Regions from separate parts of the Homo sapiens genome. Here regions 1, 3 and 4 are each linked to region 2. Evidence: fine-mapped expression QTL. A gene starts in region 2. Each other region holds a variant in brackets. All regions are shown on one strand. Distances are between the middles of the regions. Region 1 overlaps CDH13 (cadherin 13). Region 2 holds the start of HSBP1 (heat shock factor binding protein 1). Region 3 overlaps CDH13 (cadherin 13). Region 4 overlaps CDH13 (cadherin 13).

Region 1 (2,719 bases), 38 kb before region 2:
GAGAAACAGGTTTAATCATAGTGTTAATGGAAAGGGGTCATGATCCAGACCCCAAGAGAGGGTTCTTGGATCTCATGCAAGAAAGAATTCAGGGCTAGTCCACAGAGTAAAGTGAAAGCAAGTTTATTAGGAAAGTAAAGGAATAAAAGAATGGCTACGACATCGAGCAGCCCCAAGGGCTGCTGGTTGCCCATGTTTATAGTTTTTTCTTGATGATATGCTAAACAAAGGGTGAATTATTCATGTCTCCCCTTTTTAGACCATATAGGGTAACTTCCTGATGTTGCCATGGCATTTGTAAACTGTCATGGTGCTGGTTGGAGTGTAGCAATGAGGATGACCAGAGGTCACTCTCATCGCCATCTTGGTCTTGGTGGGTTTTAGCCGTCTTCTTTATTGCAACCTGTTTTATCAGCAAGGTCTTTATAACCTATATCTTGTGCTGACCTCCTATCTCATCCTGTGACTTAGAATGCCTTAACCGTCTGGGAATGCAGCCCAGTAGGTCTCATCCTCATTTTACCCAGCTCCTATTCAAGATGGAGTTGCTCTGGTTCAAACACCTTGACCACAGGGTCACAGAACGAGAAGATGGGAGGGAACCTCAAAGCCATTTCCCCAAGGAAGTTGAGGCTTGGGTTTTTGAGGGCTTTGGAGTGGGCAGAAGTGTGGAGATCAAGAGTACAGGGTGAAGTCATAGGAAGGGGAGAGGAAGCAGCTGTGTTCTCATGCTGATCCTGTTCCCCTGTGGGAGACTTCCAACTGGTGGCTGGAATTCTGGGGAGGTGTGTCTGAAAAACATCTTAAGTGTCTATAGGAACAATGGGGATGCAAATCAATTCTTAAACAGTCTTCTGGCCTTAATGTCAGAGATCCTATCTAGGGGAACGGTGGGGAAGCAAATGTCAGGATCTAGTGCTACTGTAACTGAGGAACTGGTTAGCCACTCACTGCAGCAGAGTCCAATTAACAAGATCCAGGCCTGGTACAAGAAAAGTGAATTTATTTTTGAAGCTAGCTTGGAAAGACACAAAGTGTCCTGCTTTAAGTGTGCTGCTTCATCTTTGGAGCAAAAAGCAGACATGTTTATAAGGTTAAAGGGGAAG[T/A]GAGCAAGGGCAGGAAGTCCCCCTGCTAGCCTGGTGTCTTATCTACCAAACAGCTGAGTTGGCATACAGTTGAGTTGGTGCCTTCCTGGGCAGAAATAAGTTGTAAAAGTGGCCAAGTGGGCGTGTTTTCACCATGTCCTCCTGAGGCCACCCCAGAAGTGGGAGTTCCGTGGAGATGTGCTTTGATCTGCAAATTGACTGTCAATTCTGGAGAAGAGATCACTGGGGCACGTAGATGACCTTGCCTTGTAGGGAATGTGTGGTGAGGGGGAGGTGAGAGGTTATTTTGCATTTCAAAAAGGGCTAGGTAGGAAGCAGGCTGAAAGGGGAAAGGAGAAGAGAAGAGAAAAAAGTAATTAAACCACCTCAGAAAAATCAGGGTACTTGGTTACGGTACATGACCTACTGCAACAAGGAACTGGGCCAGGGTGCAGCCTGATTAACGCTGAATTATAACTGTATTTGTACCCAGAACCTGGCATGCAATTCCCGTCAACCCTGTGGGGATGGTTTCAAAACCTGACCCTGTTTCTCATTGCATCCACACCCACAGCGTCAAAGCAATGCCAGGAGAACCACGCGTGGCTCATGTTTCTTGGAGGAGTCCTGGTTCAGTTCTACAGGCTTCCCACACAAAGCAATATACTGTTGGCCATGTAGGTAAGAAAAGCACAGGAAACTGTTTTTTACCCTTTCTACCAGTGTTTAGTACCAACCACAAGCACCAAAATACTCAAACTTCGAGCTCTGTGGCTCTGGCTCTTATGGACGGGGAAGTGCTTTACAATTGCCAGGCATTCCATTCACTTTATAGAATAGCCAGAAAGCTCCAGGGATGGGGATGCCCTGCCAGGGGGCCACAGCTCTTAAACAGGTGACATGCTTGTGACTGGAAAGAGGTCCCGATCCAGACTCCAAGAGAGAGTTCTTAGATCTCACGCAAGAAAGAATTCAGTGCGAGTCCATTAAGTGAAAGCAAGTATATTAGGAATGTAAAGGAATAAAAGAATGGCTACTCCCCGTAGACAGAGCAGCCCCAAAGGCTGCTGGTTGCCCATTTTTGAGGTTATTTATTGATGATATGCTAAACAAGGGGTGGATTATTCATGCCTCCCCTTTTTAGATCATAGAGAGTAACCTCCTGATGTTGCCATGGCATTTGTAAACTGTCATGGTGCTGGTGGGAGTGCAGTAGTGAGGACCACGAGAGGTCACCCTTGTCACCATGTTGATTTTGGTGGGTTTTGGCCAGCTTCTGTACTGCAACCTGTTTTATCAGAAAGGTCTTTATGTCCTGTATCTTATGCTGACCTCCTATCTCATCCTGTGACTTAGAATGCCTTAACCACCTGGGAAGGCAGCCCAGTAGATCTCTGCCTCATTTTACCCAGCACCTATTCAAGATGGAGTTGCTCTGATTTCAATGCCTCTGACACACTAATGTTAGAGCACCTTGGACATTTTCCTTAATCTGAGTGTCTAGTTTTCTTTTCTAGAAAATGAGAAAAAACTAGAATGTAGACCCCCATGTGCTCAAAGCAACAGCCTGCCTGGTTTGCTTGGACTTTTCCTAGACTGTATGATAACAGGTGCTCGATTCCTCTACGTAAATC
Region 2 (2,500 bases):
GTTACGCTATATAGTCTAAAAAGGGGAGGCATGAATCACCCACCCCTGGTTTAGCATATAATCAAGAAATAACTATAAAAATGAGCAACCAGCAGCCCTCAGGGCTCTGTCTATGGAGTAACCATTCTTTTATTCCTTCATTTTCTTAAACTTGCTTTCACTTTACAGACTCGCCCTGAATTCTTTCTTGCATGAGATCCAAGAACCCCCTCTCTTGGGGTCTGGATCAGGACCCTTTCCCGTAACAGCTCTAACACCTTACAGCCTCTCCCTAGCTAAAGTCAAACTGGAGCTGACCCCTCACATAGCACAGTCCTTAAATGAGATGTGTGAAAGTTTCCAGAACATGCCAGGCCCGCAGTCAAGGACTCTCCTATCCCCTTGCCATGAGACCCAATCCTAAAGACCACCTGTGGGGTTGGAACTTGAGGTTCCAAATCAGCAGTGCCCACCTCCTTCAACACCCAAACCCACAGTCTAACCCTGATGCCGGAAGCCTTCCCCACTCAACAGCAGGCATTGCGTGGAGTGAAAGAAGCCAGGCATGATGGACAGCTTCCTGTCTGAATCCCCTCATATGAACCTGACGGGCACAATGAACCTACTGGGCTAAACTCCAGACGCTGGCCACCTTCATAGGGTGGAGATGACAGAACAGGACAGGAGCCATGGGGCTCCCGGGGCGGGTAGGGGTGGGTCATGTTCCTTGGCTTGGGGGCAGTTACAAGGGTACAGTGGGGCTTGTTGAAGGGCAAAAGTTCTGTAAGTTCGTCCCGACAGGCCAAAGAAACCCCAGAGCCGTCTTTCGACTGACTACAGCCTGGAAGAGAGGCCAAGACCACTCCCTGCCTCTATTGCTCCATTTCTGAGTTGGTCTCACTTTCCACCCCACTGACGGCGCGCTGCGTGAGGGGCGGGGCATAGAGGGAGGGGAGGGGCTATGCGAAAGAAGGCGGGGAGAGTGGGGTGGGGCCGCTCCTTGGAACGGAAGCGCGCGGCCTCGAGGCCCTTCCGGTGCGGGAGAAACTACTACTCCCATAATGCCCCGCGGTCCCGCGAGCTGCCAGTCTCGTCGCGAGAAGCAGCGGCCCGGGGCGACTGAGCGGACAAACGGAAGTGTAGGTTACGGTCTGAGACATCACCGCCAAGCTGGGCATCGGGGAGATGGCCGAGACTGACCCCAAGACCGTGCAGGACCTCACCTCGGTGGTAAGGGACGGCTGTGAGGGCCGGAGGCCGCGGCCTTCCCGGGCGGCGCCGGGCCAAGCCCTGCTGGACAGAGGCGCGCCCACCGCGGCCGCGCGTGGCGTCTGCCGAGGCCCCGTTTCTGGAAGCGTCTCTGGCCGAGGCTCCCGGCCACCTTGACCCCCGGGGCGCTCGGTGCGGGCCAGTCTCCCCGCGGGCGCCCCCAAGCCCGACCCCTTCCAGTAGCCCCATTCATCTGTCGCGAACGCCCTCCGGGTCCCTCCCGCCTACCTCTGACACCCTCCCCGCCCTTCAACTCCTCACACACCCCCGGGTGCCCCAGCCCGGCAGAAACAACCTAAAGACCCTGAGCTTTGAGTCGCAGCGGCCTCCCCAGCCCAGCAGTCTAATTGGACAGGTTGGAAAACGGAAGCCCAGAGAAGGAAGATCTTGCTGAAGGCCGCACAGCTGTCCAGAGGCAGAAATGGGGCTGGAACCCCGGGACCAGGGCTTGCGTCCTGATCCCAGGAAGTTGTCTCAGGATCGATGTGGACCGTGTTTGTTTGTTTCGGTTTTTCTTAGGTGCAGACACTCCTGCAGCAGATGCAAGATAAATTTCAGACCATGTCTGACCAGATCATTGGGAGAAATATCCTTTTTATCTGCAGTCGGCCTCCTGTGGGCCTTTGGAGCCTATTTGCCGGGCAGTGGTGGGGATAAATGAGTAGTTTTCAGGCTAGCTTCAGCCATTCACTTGTAGAATTTGAGCTTGGATTGTACTGTGTTTCTGAGAAGGACTGCGCCGAGAGCTAGGGGCAAAGCTGAGTTAGACTCCTGGCTCAAGGAGCATACGTCTACCAATCCTAATAGCTGGTGTGGTGGACCATGCACTGTGAACTAAGCGCTTTTGTGTGTGTCTTTTGATGCTCAGCATGACCTTATGAGTGGGTTGTAGTGTTATCATCTTTAGCAAATGAATAAATTGAGGTTTAGGGGTTCCATCACTAGTAAGGGTCAGGGCTGGAATCCGATGCGGGGTAGCCATGCCCCACAGTCCTGTACTCTTACCCACCAGCGTGTAACAGTGTCGAAAGAAAATTGGAAGACCAGTTTCCCTAAAGTCGTTGTGTTTAAGGCTGTAGTCTGCAGGGACGGGAGGAAAAAGGCTCAATGAGATGTTGGCACGCGTTGTCTTTAACTTCAGCACTTGATGATATGAGTAGTCGCATTGATGATCTGGAAAAGAATATCGCGGACCTCATGACACAGGCTGGGGTGGAAGAACTGGAAAGTGAAAACAAGATACCTGCCACGC
Region 3 (2,748 bases), 81 kb before region 2:
ATATTGTACAAATCCTGCATTTGCATTGGCTCTGAGGACATAAATCAATTCTCATGATCTTACTTTGGAAAAAAATTTCCCTTTGAAGTCAGACTGAGCGATTTATGTAGCATTCTTTCCTGACTTTATTTTTCTCAGCTTTTTAATGATTGTCTTTTCACTTTCTGCACTTACACAACATTGTAAAGTGTTGCATTTTCATGTAGAGAAAACTGGACCTTGGTCTGAATCTTCCCACAAGGGATAATTTTATAACTTTTTTGCTCAGCCATTGAATAACAATTGCTTTTGGAAAGATTGTCATAATGTATCAGTTAGAAGGCACCTTAGAGACCATCATTTCACATGACCTCTGTTTTTTAGATGGGGAAACTGAGGCCCAAGAGTGACAGTCATGTGCTGCAGGTCACAGGCCAAGTTTGTGACAAGACCGGGGTGTCTGTTCGGGTTTTGGAGAAACAAGGACCCTAGATAGGGTCCATTCATTCATTCATTTATTTATTTATTTGTTCATTCTCCAGACAAATCGTTATCTTGGCCCCTTCTGCTGCAGCCATTGCCACTAAGAAGGCAGGCCCTGCAGGGGAGACTCTGCACGTCTTTTGTTTGTTGAGTATTTGCTAAACGGGCAAAAAATGGAAGAAAAATCAAAACATCACTGTTGGCTGGGCACGGTGGCTCACGCCTGTAATCCCGGCCCTTTGGGAGGCCGAGGCGGGCAGATCACGAGGTGAGGAGATCAAGACCATCCTGGCTAACACGGTGAAACCCCGTCTCTACTAAAAATACAAAAAAAAATTAGCCGAGCGTGGAGGCGGGCCCCTGTAGTCCCAGCTACTCGCGAGGCTGAGGCAGGGGAATGGCGTGAACCCGGGAGGCGGAGCTTGTAGTGAGCGGAGATGGCGCCACTGCGCTCCAGCCTGGGGCGACAGAGCAAGACTCTGTCTCAAAAAAAAAAAAAAATCACCGTCCTTTTTTGGCGTTCTGTCAGTCAAGAGTATTCTGAAGACTATCGAGGGAGGAGTGTTTGGTTTGTGCCTTGTTTTGTTCTGTTTTAGCAGCCCTGGAAATCATGGATACCTCCCTTCCTTGAAGTTATCTTTCCCATGTATAACAGCTGTATTGATTTATGAGATATAATTCACATACCGTACAATTCACCCATTTAAAATATACAATTCAATGGTTTTTAGTGTAGTCACAGAGTTGTGCAACCATCACCGCCCTCGATTTTAGAACATTTTCAGCACCCTAAAGAGAAGCCCCATCCCCCTTAACCGTTAACGTGCTTCCTTCTCCCCACTGCTCTAGTGACCACTAACCAGCTTCCTGTCTCTGTGGGTTTGCCTAGTACGGACATTTCATCGGAATGAAATCAGCTAA[CAT/C]GTGATATCCTTAATGGTTTTGTAGCAGAAAGACATCTACGTGGGAAGGGACGCTGCTGAGTGTTTAGAGAACAGACACATTCATCATTTTATTGTATTTTCTCAACTTTAGAACAGTTTTCAAACATGTGGAAACGTTGGAAGAATTTTATAGCAAGCACCCTTTGCCCCATCACCGAGATTCTCCCAGCACATCTTCTTCTGCTTGCTTTATTTAGTGCACACCTATCCACCTGTTCCAGAGATCACCACTGCGGCAGTGGGTTCTCAAAGGAGAACCTTCCAACCTTCCCGCATTGAGAAAGAAAAATATCAGTTTTACTAAATGAAATATCAACATTGGAGATTTTATAAGCCGAGAATGTTAGTACATCAACATTAGAAGCCCTAAAAAATAAAATTGCATTCAAAGGCCAAAAAAGTCTTAGGCTTGCTAGCTCTCCAGGAAAGGCCTGTGTGTTCAGGACAGGAGGACTAAGGACCAAACAGGTTTGGGAATGACAGATCCCTTGACGGAACTGGCTGACAACTTTGCTCACCAGTCACAGCAGGGCAGCCCAGGGAGTGAACAGGGGCGTTGGCGGGGAGGGCAGCCATTCCCGCCCGCTGCTAATGGGCTCGCTTCTCAAAGGAGCTTTTGGGATTCAAGGGTTTAAGTATCAAGTTTGACTGATGGATTTGGAGGGAAGAATTGAAAACTGCCTGAGGGAAGGCGCTTTGCTTTTTCTTTTGTGAGGCAAAAGCTTTTGAAAACTGTGACTGTACAAAGAGCCACAGCTCCTCTGAGGAGTCTGTTATGCGGCAACACATACTCAGATGTGGACAGCAGTGAGCACGCTGCCTGGAAAGGGGGAACAGCACCGCGGGCAGGCTTCAGAGCCACACACCACGTCTCTGTCTCAGAGTCTATCCTCGACCACAGGGTTTAAGTCTTTGATGTGCACACTGGGCCCTGGAGAGAAGGTGCCTGTTCTCACGGGCTGACCCCACAAGCCTGTGAGCCGTAAGCGGTGTGATTCGCTAACAGTTGAATGGCACTGGCTATGTGTGTATGTGTATGTGTGTGCGTGTGTGTGTGTGTGTGTGTTGTGAAGATACATTTAGTTTGAGTCCCTATGAAACGAGGAGAAAAGGTCTTGACAAACAACAGTTCAATAGCTCCTGCCAATATGTGCAATGCAATTCTTTTTAGTGAGTGAATTAGGCTTGATAAGAACTACATTAAAGCTTCTGTTGGAAGAGGAATTCAAAATGCTCATCTTTGTAATTTACCCACTCAGTCACCAGTGTTTACCAAGTGCCAATGGAAGCCTGGAGAGAAGAGAAAGCAAAGATAAATAAGCGTGTCTCTCGGCCTTCAAAG
Region 4 (2,748 bases), 52 kb before region 2:
TAAACCTCTTTCTTTTTTAAATTGCCCAGTCTCTGGTATGTCTTTATCAGCAGCATGAAAATGGACTAATACATCATCCTATCTGACTAATACAGGAGAGGGAAAAACTCATAGCACCATATGTCATCTGGAGCCTCTCCAATCTTTTTTTTAATAATGCCCAATTTACAGTTTTATAAAAATTACTTGACCTGTAAAGAAGCAAGAATGTGTAAGTGATGAACAAGAGAAAAATCAGACTACAGAGGATCCAGATATTTGAATTAGCACACAAGAACATTAAAATAAACATGATTAGTATGTTCAAGGAGACAGAATAAAAGATAGATTCAAGCAGAGAGAATTACACAAGAGATCTGAAATCTTTAAGAAGGAATCAGATAGATATTCCAGAACTGAAATACATATTATCATATTAAAAACTCAGTAAGTAGACTTAACAGCAGAACACAGGATTTTTAACCTGGAATATGAATCTATAGCAAACACCACAAGGGAAGCACAGTGAGGATAAAGAACGGGAAAAAATCTGCCAAAAGACTAGTGTGTGGAATTGGAGTTACAGAAGGATAGGAGAGTGCTAATGGAGCAGAAAAAAAAATTTGAAGATGTAATGTCCAGGAATTTTCCAAAACTGATGAAAGACATTCTCCCTATTAAATCAAAAAGTTTAGCAAACCACAAGCTGGATAAATTTGAAGAAAAACACACCTCAAACACTGAAATCAAACTGATGAAAAACAATATCAAAGAGAAAATGTTAAAAATAGCCTGAGAATAAAAGAGGCATTTACCTGCAAATGAGCTACAATATGACTTATGGCTGACTTCTAGATAGAAATAATGGAATGTGGAAGGCAATGGAATAACATTTCTCTGAGCACTTTAAAGATGCCTACCAACCTAGAATTCTTTAGTTCTCAAATTTTTCCCTTCAAAATCAAGGTGAATTAAAGACTTTTGGGGCAAAAAAAAAAAAAATGGAATTGTATTGCAAGCAGGTTTATGCCTTTTACTGAAGAGAATATTTCAGGCAGAGGGAAAATGATGCCAGAGAGGCATAGAAACACAAGAAACATAAATAAAAATAGAAAGTTAAATATGTATAAAGTAAAAAAGTAAATGAAGTAAAATTGTAAGGACATAAGGAGTTAAAAATATTTATAGAACTAAAATGCATGACAGCAGTAACAGAAAAAGTGAGAGGCTATAAACATAGTTAAAACAGTTTCTGCAGCATTGGAGATGTAGTTAAAGCAATACTTTGTATTAGACTCTAATAAGTCAAGTATCTATATTGTATAACCCTTAGGGTAATCACTAAAAGAATATAAAAGAAAGTAAAACTAACAAATTAATAGAAGGAAATAGGTTTGACTAATCCAAAATAAGAAAGGAGGGGGAACAACATTAAAAAGATGGCCAAATAGAACAACAAGGTGATACAGTAAGTATATACCTAATTATACCACAGTAAAATGCAAAATGTAAACAGATTAAATATTTCAAGTAATATTATCAGACTATTTTTAAAAATCAGCAAACTGGATGCTACATACAATAGACACACTTTAAATAAAAGAACAAAGAATGGAAATAAAAGAAAAATATACCTT[G/T]ATAGTACAGTCTCTCCTAAAAACACATGAAAGTATTTTTTAAAACAAGCTTGTCCAACCCACAGCCTGTGGGCCATATGTGGCCCAGAATGGCTTTGAATGCGGCCCAACACAAATTTTTAAACTTTCTTTAAACAACATTATGAAATTTTTTGGCGCTTTTTTTATAGCTCTTCAGCTACTGTTAGTGTTAGTGTATTGTATGTGTGGCCCAAGACAATTCTTCTTCCAATGTGGCCCAGGGAAGCCAAAAGATTGGACACCCCTGTTTAAAACAAGAAACATGACAAGAGGTAAAGAGGCCATTTCATAATGATGAAGGGAGGTATCAAAAAGAAGGACATCACAGTCCTAAATCTGTATGTACTGGACAGCACAGATTCCAAATATACAGAGCAGAGAAAACTAAAAAGAGAAGTAGACAAATCTACAATCATTGTGGGAGTCTTAAAACATCTCTCATATCAGCTTCAAGAAAAAACAACAAGGAGTAAAGCTGTAAAAGATTTGAACAAAATAATTAACAAATTTCATCAACTAACATATATAGAACTCTGAACTCAACAACTGAGTTCATTCTTTTCAAATTCCCAAGGAAAATTACCTAAATTGTTTGCATGCAGAGCATATAGAAAAGTCTAACAAACGTTTTTAACTGCAATTATTTCTAGTATATCCTCCAATCACAATGGAATTAAACTAAGCATTAGTAGCAAAATATAACCAGAAACACCCTAACTGACTGAACATAAAACAGTACACTTCCAAATAACTCATAATCAAAAACAAAAATAGAAATATGAAATGTCAAAACTTGTGGGATGCACTAAACCAGTGCTCAGAGGAAAATTCTAGAAAATAGGAAACAAATATACAAGACAAAATCAACAAATCCAGGCTGGGCACGGTGGCTCACTCCTGTAATCCCAGAATTTTGGGAGGCTGAGGCGGGTGAATCACCTGAGGTCAGGAGATCGAGACCAGCCTGGCCAACATGGCAAAACCCTGTCTCTACCAAACGTACAAAGATTAGCTGGATACAGTGGCATGTGCCTGTAATCTCAGTTACTTGGGAGCCTGAGGCAGGACAATCGCTTGAACCCAGGAGGCGGAGGTTGCAGTGAACCAAGAT

What was found. PIP is the estimated chance that this variant, and not a neighbour inherited with it, causes the effect.
Region 1: its variant is fine-mapped to the expression of HSBP1 in blood mononuclear cells (TOPMed, PIP above 0.99). The same link has a PIP of 0.9 or more in whole blood.
Region 3: its variant is fine-mapped to the expression of HSBP1 in whole blood (INTERVAL, PIP 0.99).
Region 4: its variant is fine-mapped to the expression of HSBP1 in whole blood (INTERVAL, PIP 0.99).

The regions. Positions count from the first base shown.
Region 1 is chr16:83,768,449-83,771,167 of GRCh38, forward strand. The region is part of intron 11 of CDH13 (cadherin 13); the gene reads left to right. The region is part of intron 1 of CEDORA (CDH13 antisense oligodendrocyte and neuron associated lncRNA); the gene reads right to left. Among named protein-coding and RNA genes, the nearest start is that of CEDORA, 3.1 kb to the right of the region's middle. RefSeq lists an enhancer at 1,025-1,164. The variant T/A (reference allele first, on the strand shown) is at 1,107.
Region 2 is chr16:83,806,913-83,809,412 of GRCh38, forward strand. HSBP1 (heat shock factor binding protein 1) reads left to right here and starts at 1,066. Exons shown (of 4, transcript NM_001537.4): 1 at 1,066-1,209; 2 at 1,768-1,834; 3 at 2,393-2,500. The coding sequence starts at 1,165. RefSeq lists an enhancer at 860-1,361 and silencers at 1,019-1,195, 1,213-1,502.
Region 3 is chr16:83,725,891-83,728,638 of GRCh38, forward strand. All of the region lies in intron 10 of CDH13 (cadherin 13), which reads left to right. The region is part of intron 2 of CEDORA (CDH13 antisense oligodendrocyte and neuron associated lncRNA); the gene reads right to left. Among named protein-coding and RNA genes, the nearest start is that of CEDORA, 46 kb to the right of the region's middle. RefSeq lists an enhancer at 2,048-2,548. The variant CAT/C (reference allele first, on the strand shown) is at 1,384.
Region 4 is chr16:83,754,784-83,757,531 of GRCh38, forward strand. All of the region lies in intron 11 of CDH13 (cadherin 13), which reads left to right. The region is part of intron 1 of CEDORA (CDH13 antisense oligodendrocyte and neuron associated lncRNA); the gene reads right to left. Among named protein-coding and RNA genes, the nearest start is that of CEDORA, 17 kb to the right of the region's middle. The variant G/T (reference allele first, on the strand shown) is at 1,617.